Linked DNA regions of Homo sapiens: regions 1, 2 and 3 are each linked to region 4. Evidence: fine-mapped expression QTL. A gene starts in region 4. Each other region holds a variant in brackets. All regions are shown on one strand. Distances are from middle to middle.

Region 1 (2,683 bases), 210 kb before region 4:
AGGAAGGGCTCCATCCTGATGCCTCCCCCTTGGTGGACCTCAGGTGGTCCCAGGGCTGACTCCTGTGCTCTGAGTCCCTGAAAAAACTCTTAACCTTCACCCCTACAGCTGTTCTCCCAGTGCCTGTTCACTCAGCTCCAGGAGCCCTTGCCCATGGCCAGGCAATGAGCACCAATGTGGGAGGGGAGGGCCAGCAGGGCTGGTCATGTCACCTCCAATCTCTGCTGCCAGCAGGGAGGGAGGCCAGAGGCCTCTGTCCCCATGAAATAAGCCTTCCTGGCACATGGCTCACACCCCTAAGGTCCTCTGTGGGATCCCAACCCAGCCTCAGCGGGGAGCTCGGGTCTGCATGGAGGCCTAAGCAAGGTGGCGGGGAGGCCCCGGGTTCTGCAGCCCCCCAGAACTGTGCCTTGCACTCACGCTCTCAAACTTCTTGACGTAATTGTAGGTGAGGATATCCGCTTCCTGCAGGTCTTGCTCAGGGTCCAAGGGCTCGCCCACCAGCGTCTTCCAGAAGGAGGGCAGGAGGTCCAGGGGCAGCGGGACGTCTGCCCGAATTGCAATCCCCAGCAGCTGCCCCAGGAAGTGCAGCAGCTGCTCCTCCCCGTAGGTGATGGGGCTCGGGGTCAGGATATACTTGCCCTGGAAGTGGAGGTGGGCATGAGGTGACCTGGGCGTGGGCCTCTGTGCCCGCCAGGGAACATGTGTTTCAAGCCACCATACCCTGTGGCAGGCAGGAGAGAAGTCACTGCAAGCTCCCAGAGCTTGCCCATCCAGTGAGGCAAGGACCTGTCCCCACAGATTGGGAGGGTTTCTGAAACGGTTTGGCTTTGATGAGACACACACTGCCCGCCACCCCAGCCACTGCGCAGGACATGAGCTCGGGGGCGTGGAGCCTCCTCCCGGCCTCTGCCTACCTTGTTCTTATTGACAGCTGAGCTGGGGCACAGCAGCAGCAGCGACAGCGAGGAACTCTGCAGCTCCTTACACACCTGCCACAGGAAGTGGCGGAAAGAGCCGCCTGTAGGACAGACGAGACACATGGGCACCTGGGGTGTCCCGGCGGGAGGCGACACCGTTCCCTCCCTCTCACCTGCTGGCTGGAGCGGCTACTCCTTCCACGGCCTACCTGCCGCTGTGGCGGGGTAGAAAGAAGCCACCCCAGGCCTGGGAGGCCTCAGGTCCAATCCTGCTCTCCACTCACTAGTGGGGCCACCCAGGGATACCACGGAGGGCAAGATGTCCCTGAGGCTCAGTCACCTGTCTGTCAAATGGGAGAGTGACCGTACCTACCCCGAAGGCCATTCGAAGATTCAGTGA[G/C]GTCACCGCAGGTCCCCACACAGGCAACCTCTCACAGCTGCAAGCCTGCCTGAGTTGTGGACTTGTTTGGTCCATGTCTGTCCCTCTGGGCCAGGCTGAGGGCAGGACCACCTGTTTCACTCAGCACTGCCTCCCCCAGTGCCCGGGCTCGCGTATGTCCGATGAATGCGTGAGTGAATGGACAAATGTGTGAATGTGCAAAGGGCAACGGTAACTGCTCATCCTCTCCCGCCGCCATTCAAGATGGGCCTTTGGTTTTGTTGTAAATCTCCTCTGGCCTTCCCTGTGTTCCCTATCGGTACCCTGAGGTCAGGGAGCTCTGAGCACAGCTGTGCCCACACCCTGCTTGGTAAGAGCCATGTGGAAACCCAGTGTGGGGGCCCAGTGCAGGGGCAGATGGTGGGCCTGGCCCTCACCTCTGCTTCAAGGAGAAGCAGGAGCGTCCTGACTGCTGACGCCTGGAAGGCCAGGGGCCTGGACCCTGGAACCCCAGCTGGCTGCATGACCTTGGGAAGTGACTTGGCTTTGTAGAGTCCCAGTTTCCCTATGTGTAGGATGGGCCAGGGCTGGCACTCTGGGCAGGTTCGCTGCTGTGGGAAGGATAAGGTGTCGAGCGTGAGTCTGGGCTGTCAGTGAACCAGAGTTGCTCTCAGAGAGGCCTAGGAGGCCTGCCCATAGGATGCCAGGGTCCCCCGTCTGGGAGGCAGCTGCGTTCCCGTGGGGGCAGATCAGAGGAAAGGGGAGAAGGAGCTGGGTGGGGGCTCCCTCCTGCCCGGACAGCCTTTCCTTCCAGTGTGCCCGGCTGTGGAGAAACTAGCTTTCTTCTCCATCTGCAGTGGACACGTTTCCTGAATGTCTGGGGCTAAGCATAAGAGGTCACAAGGGAGCACTTGCTCAGCTGCCAGTCCTCATCCCTGAAGAGTGCTATGGTGCCATCTTAACCAAGGACTCCCCAACACCCTGCCTCTCATGGGGCACACACAAGCCTTTAGGCCCACCAACTCCTCAGCCAGGGCCCTTCCCGGGGAGGGGGCCAATCAGCACCGAGGAGGGCCCTGAGCAGAGGTGCCGTCCCCAAGCCCAGCAGGGACTGGCCGAGGCTTCCACAGGGGGCTGGTCTGGAGGACACGGGCGTGAGGCCACTCTGGGTGCAGACCTGGCTTCTGCAGCACAAGTGCTGAGGATGTGGCTTTTACTCTTGGAAATGGAGGTCTTGGGCAGCTGGGGCTAAGGCTGGACACTAAACACAGCTCCTCCAGCGTGGAGCCTGGCGGGCCACCACTTACTGGTGCCATGGACCTCCTCGCCAGTGAAGCGGATGTTGAAGGCATATGTGGGGTCACCGCCACTGGCCAGCTTGACG
Region 2 (2,683 bases), 380 kb before region 4:
AGAATTTTTCTCATCTCTTTCTCCCAAGCCCACCTATACAAGAGGATTTTTCTCATATATTTCTCCCAAACCAGAAAAAGAGGTAAGATGCTAATTAATATCTTGTTAATAGGGTTAGATGGTCAAGTTGCCTTGGCTAACAGAAACATAAAAAAGTGAAATAATATGTAATAAAACATTTAAAAGTATAAAGTATTTAATAAATATCAGCTATTATGTTAACCACATATGGCCTTTTCTCTGGGTAAGCTTGCTAAAATTCCAGTTGGATGGCACAGTCATAGATTCTACTGGCTTATGACCTATCATAAGTTTATAACTGTTAAGAGATTTAAAAATGTGAAATGGTGAAGTCAAGAAATATATAAAGAAAAATCTCTAAATTTAAAATGTTTTATTTGGGAAGCAAGAATTGCATTTCAGGGCATACACACAGACTGCGTGGTCTTGGACATGTCTGAAGAACAAAGAGATGACTGGGAGTTTTATTAGAAGGGAAATAGTACATGTTGTTTTGAAAGCAAGCTCACTGGCACCAAAGAAAGTTTTGGGAGTCGGCAAACTCTGATTAGTGAGTGACCGTGGTATGTAAAACTAGTCCTAAGAGACAGGGCAAGTCATTTTGGCAACTACAAGATCAAACTGGTCTCAGGGTTACATTGGACTATTTTAGTAGCTGGGCTTGTGAAAATATTAATTATTGGAGCAGGTGCTATGTGCTCTGAGAGCTTGTTCCCCTTGGCTTCTCGACTCCAATTTAGTTGGGTATGACAAGAATGATCCAATATGTATAATCAACTTTCACATAAATAATCCCTGGAGAAGAAAAGCAGCCATGCAGCTTTTGTGAGCAATAACATTCTGATCATTAATTCAAGAAATAGCCCTATGAGGCTGGGCGCAGTGGCTCATGCCTGTAATCCCCAGCACTTTGGGAGGCCGAGGCGAGCAGATCACCTGAGGTCAGGAGTTTGAGACCAGCCTGACCAATATGGTGAAACCCTGTCTCTACTAAAAATACAAAAAAATTAGCCAGGCATGGTGGCATATGCCTGTAGTCCCAGCTACTTGGGAGGCTGAGGCAGAAGAATCACTTGAATCCAGGAGATGGAGGTTGCAGTGAGCTGAGATCACACCACTGCACTCCAGCCTGAATGACAAAGCGAGACTCTCAGGAAAGGCAAAGGGGGAAAGGGGGAAAGGAAAGGAAAGGACCCTATGTATAGGGAGATGTTAAAACATATCAGAAGTCTTTGGCAGGGCAAAGGAGGACAAAACGAGGTGAGGTTTGCTTGCACTCAATTCTAATAACAGGAGATAAAGTTCAATCAATTATACAACAAAAATTAACTGAGTACCTATTATTGAAATCAAGAAAAATTCTACCCCTCCTATGTATAACAAGGCATTATTTTGAAGGAAATACAAAGAAATGTATAATATAGGTCATGCTCTTAAGAAAAATACAACCAGCCTAGTGCCTGGTAATAAAGAAAACCCAAAAAAGCATAAGATATGATCCTAAACATGAAAGCAAAAACTCTTAAAAAAAAACCCACATATATATACATTTGTATTTGTCCTTTTTTTTTACTTAGAAATTCAACTTTATTTACAAATGTTCTTCTATTTACAAAGAGGCCATTCTAGCTCTTTAAAAATATTGTAACTTGGCCGGGCGCGGTGACTCACGCCTGTAAT[C/T]CCAGCACTTTGGGAGGCCAAGGCGGGTGGATCACGAGGTCAGGAGTTCAACACCAGCTTGACCAACATGGTGAAACCCCATTTCTACTAAAAATACAAAAATTAGCTGGGCATGCTGGCGCATGCCTGTAATCCCAGCTACTCGGGAGGCTGAGCCAGAATTGCTTGAACCGAGACCCTGGTGACAGAGGTTGCAGTGAGCTGAGACTGCACCACTGCACTCCAGCTTGGGCTACAGAGCGAGACTCCATCTCAAAAAAAAAATAAAATAAATTATATATACATATATATACACATGTATATAGTAACTAATAATTTTCACAAAAACCATTTACATTGTTTCAAACTTTCTGTTTAAAACTGTACTATGAGATGAGCAAACAATCCCACAAGATGATTTGAGACATAAAAAAATAAATAAAAGACAACCTATCCAGCATGAATGTCCTATTGACAAACACAATGAAGAATTAAGAATCACAACCCACAGTGTGCCACTTCACCAAGAAATGGAACTGTAAAGATTTTGGGGGAGGTAAATGCTTCACAACAGTCTTCTTGTGTAGTATAGTTTAATTGTGACTGTTTAGGACTGCTCTTGCAGGCTAATATTTATGCTGCTTTTTTTTGTTTAAAGTCATCACTGTAGAAAGGGTAGACTTTTGTAGATTTTTCTAACAATGAAAATATGTAGACACTGGTCTGGTCTCATCATTTAGTCCAATTAATAAAATAATAAATGCATTAAAAAAGTAAAACAAAATCATCATGTGACTAACACAATTCTCCTTGATATATCAGAGAGTATTACTCCTCAATAGTGTCTATAAATTTGAATTATTCATAGATGAAACAATATACAAACAAAATAATTAACCAAGGAGTTCAAAATAAAATCACTCAAATTACCTATTTATCATTTTATGTGTAGCAATTACTTTTTTAAAATCCTTTAAATTTTATCTAGAGATAAGCATTCACA
Region 3 (2,683 bases), 510 kb before region 4:
CCCAATCGATGAACAAGGTATATATCTCTCCATTTGTTTAGGTCTTTAATTTTCCTAAAAAATGTTTATGCTTCTTAATGTTACAGGTCTTGCACATATTTTCTTAAATTTATCCTTAAATTTTGTTTTTGGATGCTGTTGGAAATGATATTGTAAAACATTTCAGCTGGGCGTGGTGGTTCACGCCTGTTATACCAGCACTTTGGGAGGCTGAGGCAGGCGGATCACCTGAGGTCGGGAGTTCGAGACCAGCCTGGCTGCCATGGTGAAACCCCATCTTTACTAAAAATACAAAAATTTGCTGGGCGTAGTAGCCGGTGCCTGTAATCTCAGCTACTTGGGAGGCTGAGGCAGGAGAATCTCTTGAACCTGGGAGGTGGAGGCTGCAGTTAGTCGAGATCATGCCATTGCACTCCAGCCTGGGTGACTAGAGTGAAACTGCGTCTCAAAAAAAAAAAAATTCATTTTCTAATTTTAACTAGTTTATAGAAATACTAGTGTTTTTTGTTTGTTTGTTTTGGGTTTTTTTTTTTTTTTTTGAGATGGAATTGCACTCTTTGTTGCCCAGGCTGGAGTGCAGTGGCGCAATCTCAGCTCACTGCAACCTCTGCCTCCTGGGTTCAAGCAATTCTCCTGTCTCAGCCTCTGGGATGACAGGCGCCCGCCACCACACCTGGCTAATTTTTATATTTTTAGTAGAGACAGGGTTTCACCATGTTGGCCAGGCTGGTCTCGAACTCCTGACCTCAGGTAATCCACCCACTTTGGCTTCCCAAAGTGTTGGGATTACAGGTGTGAGCCACTGCCCCCAGCCATACTAGTGACTTTTTTTTTTTTTTTTTTTGAGATGGAGGCTTGCTCTGTTGCCCAGGCTGGAGTGCAGTGGCGCAATCTCGGCTCACTGCAATCTCCGCCTCCCAGGTTCAAGCGATTCTCCTTCCTCAGCCTCCCGAGTAGCTGGGACTACAGGCGCCCGCCACCACGCC[C/T]GGCTAATTTTTTTTCATATTTTTAGTAGAGACGGGGTTTCACCTTGTTAGCCAGGATGGTCTCAATCTCCTGACCTCATGATCTGCCTACCTTGGCCTCCCAAAGTGCTGAGATTACAGGCGTGAGCCACTGCACCCGGCCCATACTAGTGATTTTTGTATATTGACTTTGTGTCTTGGGACCTTCCTAAATTCATTTATTAAATCTAGTAAATTTTTTGTAGATTTATTAGGATTTTCTTTTTTTTCTTTTTCTTTTTTGAGAGCCTAAAAGTGGGCATGCCTCTTCTGTTGCTCGGCCTTTAGTGTTGGGTTTGAGGGTTAAATCAGTCTACTCAAAAGTTGAGCTGAGTGTGAGTTTTGTTGTTGCTATCGTTGTCTTCAGTGCCTCAGTGGCATGGGATTCCTGTTTTGTTACCTTATGGTTAGGTGGGATCTGAAATGCCATTTTTTTTAAAATTTAAAAAAAATTTTTTTAAAATATTCCACTTCTACCCTCAGTCTTGGCCTTGCTAGTGCACCTGTACCTCAGAGGGGATCTCTCTTTACAGTCTTGGCCCCCCCTTAGCAATAGATTGCTGTCAGTTACTGCTTGGTCCCTGCAAGCCTGCAGAAAGGGAGATGGCAATGGGGGACCGAGAGGTATCTGTTTCTCTGCTGTTGGGCAGGACCTGTGTTCTTGAGTCTCATGAATATCTGGTGGAAGTCTGTGCAGAAGAGTATGGGAGCAGGCATGAGTCTTCCTTGTTTGTATGGCTCCTAGAGGGTCTGTACTCTTATCCTAGCCCACATTTTGCCTTTAGCAGTTTGTTAAAAACCTCGCTGAATTCTTTTTACCCAAATGGCATGTGATATCACTTCCTCCTGCGCTCTGCCATAGGTGAGCCAGCTTTCACTCCCCATCTCTCCTTGGAAGGGCCTGACTTAAAGATTTCCGAATAATTGGTTAACCTGAGACCTGATCTTTGATGGGTTCAAAAAAAGTGATGGGCCGGGCGCAGTGGCTTACCCCTGTAATCCCAGCAGTTTGGGAGGCTGAGGGGGGTGGATCACTTGAGGTCAGGGGTTCAAGACTAGCCTGGTGAACATGGTGAAACCCCGTCTCTACTAAAAAGACAAAATATTAGTCGGGTGTGGTGGCAGCCACCTGTAATCCCAGCTTCTCGGGAGGCTGAGGCAGGAGAATTGCTTGAACCTAGGAGGTGGAGGTTGCAGTGAACAAAGATTGAGCCATTGCACTCCAGCCTGGTGACAGAGCGAGACTCCATCTCAAAAAAAAAAAAAAAAAAAAAGGATGATTTTATAATTTATCTTTGACACTTTCCAGCTTTCTATATCCTAGCAGAAACAGAAATCCCAACAATTTGGGTGGAAGGAGGGTGAGGATCAAAAAACTACCTATGTGGTATTATGCTTATATAAAACCTGGGTGATGAAATAATCTGTATACCAAACCCCTGTGAAGACACTGCAGTTCACCTATATAATTAACATGCATAAAGCACATGTACCCCTGAACCCAAAATAAAAGTTAAAAAAAAAAAGTCCCAACAATTTGATTATGTATGCATTCTTGTTCCTTTGTTTTTCCTGCCAGGGATCTCTTGAGCTCCTGGGATCTGTTGGTTTATGGTGTTTATCAAATAAACACCATATCAAATAAAAATTAGGAAATTTTTCAGACATCATCTCTTCAA
Region 4 (2,683 bases):
AAACTGCACGCAAAACCGCAAAACACAAAAGATCCCTCGCATGCCGTTTATAGCCAGAAGATAGGCCATCCTCTCTGCGCCCTACCCCAGAAAGCTCTCCTTACGGCAGTAAAAATTTGATGACACCCCATGCTACCTACACATCAAAATGTCATCCCACAAAGTGGAAGGGGAGCAGTGTCAGCATCCGTTGGCCTCCATGAAACGACACTGCCAGTATTCCCACCTCTAGGCAAACACGAACCCAAGTGAAGTCGATGGAAAGTTCCCACCAACCAGGCATATTTGGTTCCCTTCTGCCCCCAAGGCCAAGCAGCTCAACTGATGAGATCTGCTGTTGCACCTGCCACGGCTCTGAACCCGGGATGCTTGGCGACCCCCGGGGCACACAAAAAGGCCCTGCGGCCTAACGCGCCAGTGACCCTTCCCCGAGAGTGCATGGAGGGCCGCTGGAGCATCCCTCTCGCTGTCCACAGCGCCCGCTTCCCTGACAAAGGCCCCGTGTCAATCCATCCGAGACACAACACAGAGAAGTTGCTGGATTGCCCATCGCGGACCCGCAGCTGCCACTACCCTCTCCCGGAAAAAAACCAAACCAAACCAAACAAAAAAAACAGAACTAGGGAAGAAAAGGATGGGAGGGTACACAGCGTGAAAATCAAAATGTTCCCAAAGCTAAGCAACCTGGGTGTGCCCTGGAAGTGGGTCCTGGGGGCCCGTGGGGGAGGGGAGGGAGGGCCCGGGTGGTGGCGGTGGCTCCTCTGGGGCATGAAGGCCGAGCCAGGCGCTAGCCTAATAAAATGCCGGGTGTCGGAACGCTCAAAAGAAAACCACAAATGAAATCCCCTGCGGGCGCCAGGCCCCGAGGAGGGAGGGAGGGAGAGCGGGGCGGGCGGTCCGCAGACCTGCGGCCGCGGCCCCACCTGCCCGCCCCGCGCCCACACACACCTGCCCCGGCAGCCGCCGGGAGGCGAGGCCGCGGCTGAGGCGAGGAGGGGGCCCGACCCGGGGGTGCCGGGCGAGTGGGTCAGTCCGATGGCGGGGGCCGGGGGCCGCCTCGCTCACCTCCAGGTCGGTGTCCGCGGCCTCTGGGGCCCCGAGGATCTCGCTGGGCAGCTCGGCCAGGTCGGTGACCCGGATCAGCCCGTCGTGCAGGAAGATGGTCTCTTCCTTCACCGAGAGCCACTGCGCCGAGTCAGCGGCCGCCGCCGCCGCCGCCGCCGCGGCCGCCGACGAGCCCATGGCCCCGGCTGAAGGCTTGGCGCTGAGGAGCAGACGCCCGGCCGGGGGAAACGGAGCAGGAGCCGCCGCGATCACCAGTCCATGGCAGCGGCCGCCGCGCCCGCCAGCGGCGCCCCACTTGCTGCCTCGCCCGTGCAACTCCGCCCTAGGCGGTCCGAGTCGCCATACCCCCGACCCCGGCCCGGGAGACCCCGGCCCTGCCGCCGCCGCCGCCGCCGCCGCCGCCGCCGCCCTCAGGAGCAGGATCCGCCTCTGCCGCTCGGCAACCAACTGTCAGTGAGACGCCATGTTGGGGGCGGGGCTCCCGGCATGCCTCGCGGAGCGGACAATACAGGCCCCGCCCGCCGCTCCGCCCACCGCTCCGCGGACGAGGCCACCCGGGTGGCCTGGACGTCCGCCTAGCCCTTCGCTGCCGCCTGCCCTCGGCCTGACCTCCGCCGGCCCCTTCTCCCCCTGGCCATTCAGGGTAGCCCTGGCTTTGCAGCGCGCCAGGGAAGAGGACGCCGCTTCCCCCGTCCTGTCCCTACTCAGGTGTGCACCCCTTGCTCGGGCCCGCGCCCCCACCCTGGGCAGAGCATAGAGATCACTCCTTGTTTTCACGTTTAAATGAGATGCAAGCAAAAGGCTGGCGCAGAATAGGCGCTGCACACTTGTTCATAAGCACTTGGTAGAATCACATAGTAGATGATTAATATTGACTGAAAAGTCTAGTACCCAGTAAGCACTCAAAACCTGGTGAAAATAAAGCGTCTGTCCACAATGCTTGGTGCTCAATGCCCGACACTTAATATGTGCTCCATGAGTGGCAATTCTAATTATTGCTATGTTCGTTCCATCAGTGTTCCACACTAATTGACATACACCTTAAAAATATGCTCACTAGGCCGGGTGCGGTGGCTCACACCTGTAATCCCAGCACGGAGGTCAAGGCAGAAGGACTGCTTGAGCCCAGAAGTTTGAGGCCAGCCTGGGCAACATAGGGAGACCCCATCTCTACAAAAAATAAAAATTAGCGGGGCAGGGTGGCAAGCGTCTGTAGTCCTGCTACTCGGGAGGCTGAGGCAAGAGGATCTCTTGAACTCAGGAGGTGGAGGCTGCAGTGAGCTATTATCTTGCCACTGCACTCCAGCCCGGGCGACAGAGGGAGACCCCATCCCTCCCTCCCCACCAAAAATATATATATGCCCACCAGTGCCATTTTATAAAAACAAGAAAGGAAAACTATATGTATAAAGAACAATGCATGAACAAATACACACCAGATGTTTAAGGTGAGTTGCCATGGGAGTGTGGGGCTGGTCTGGAACTACTGAGATGAGATTGTTCTCTATTACTTGTATATTTTTATCACTTAAAAAATAATAAAACAGGCCGGGCACAGTGGCTTACACCTGTAATCCCAGCACTTTGGGAGGCCAAGGTGGGCAGATCACCTGAGGTC

The links. PIP is the estimated chance that this variant, and not a neighbour inherited with it, causes the effect. A credible set is the group of variants that fine-mapping cannot tell apart.
Region 1: its variant is the best candidate, but not a certain one, in a credible set for the expression of HECTD4 in blood mononuclear cells (TOPMed, PIP 0.68).
Region 2: its variant is the best candidate, but not a certain one, in a credible set for the expression of HECTD4 in whole blood (TOPMed, PIP 0.89).
Region 3: its variant is the best candidate, but not a certain one, in a credible set for the expression of HECTD4 in breast (GTEx, PIP 0.80).

What each region holds. Positions count from the first base shown.
Region 1 is chr12:112,166,897-112,169,579 of GRCh38, forward strand. HECTD4 (HECT domain E3 ubiquitin protein ligase 4) reads right to left here. Exons shown (of 76, transcript NM_001388303.1): 70 at 2,607-2,683; 71 at 918-1,021; 72 at 421-642. Among named protein-coding and RNA genes, the nearest start is that of MIR6861, 4.9 kb to the left of the region's middle. The variant G/C (reference allele first, on the strand shown) is at 1,321.
Region 2 is chr12:111,997,644-112,000,326 of GRCh38, forward strand. All of the region lies in intron 3 of TMEM116 (transmembrane protein 116), which reads right to left. It also overlaps the pseudogene LOC724085. Among named protein-coding and RNA genes, the nearest start is that of TMEM116, 14 kb to the right of the region's middle. The variant C/T (reference allele first, on the strand shown) is at 1,702.
Region 3 is chr12:111,873,949-111,876,631 of GRCh38, forward strand. The region is part of intron 7 of MAPKAPK5 (MAPK activated protein kinase 5); the gene reads left to right. Among named protein-coding and RNA genes, the nearest start is that of MAPKAPK5-AS1, 32 kb to the left of the region's middle. The variant C/T (reference allele first, on the strand shown) is at 987.
Region 4 is chr12:112,380,887-112,383,569 of GRCh38, forward strand. It overlaps HECTD4 (HECT domain E3 ubiquitin protein ligase 4), which reads right to left and starts at 1,545. Exons shown (of 76, transcript NM_001388303.1): 1 at 1,066-1,545. The coding sequence starts at 1,242. RefSeq lists enhancers at 1-3, 1,189-1,688 and silencers at 696-1,185, 1,196-1,465, 1,576-1,865.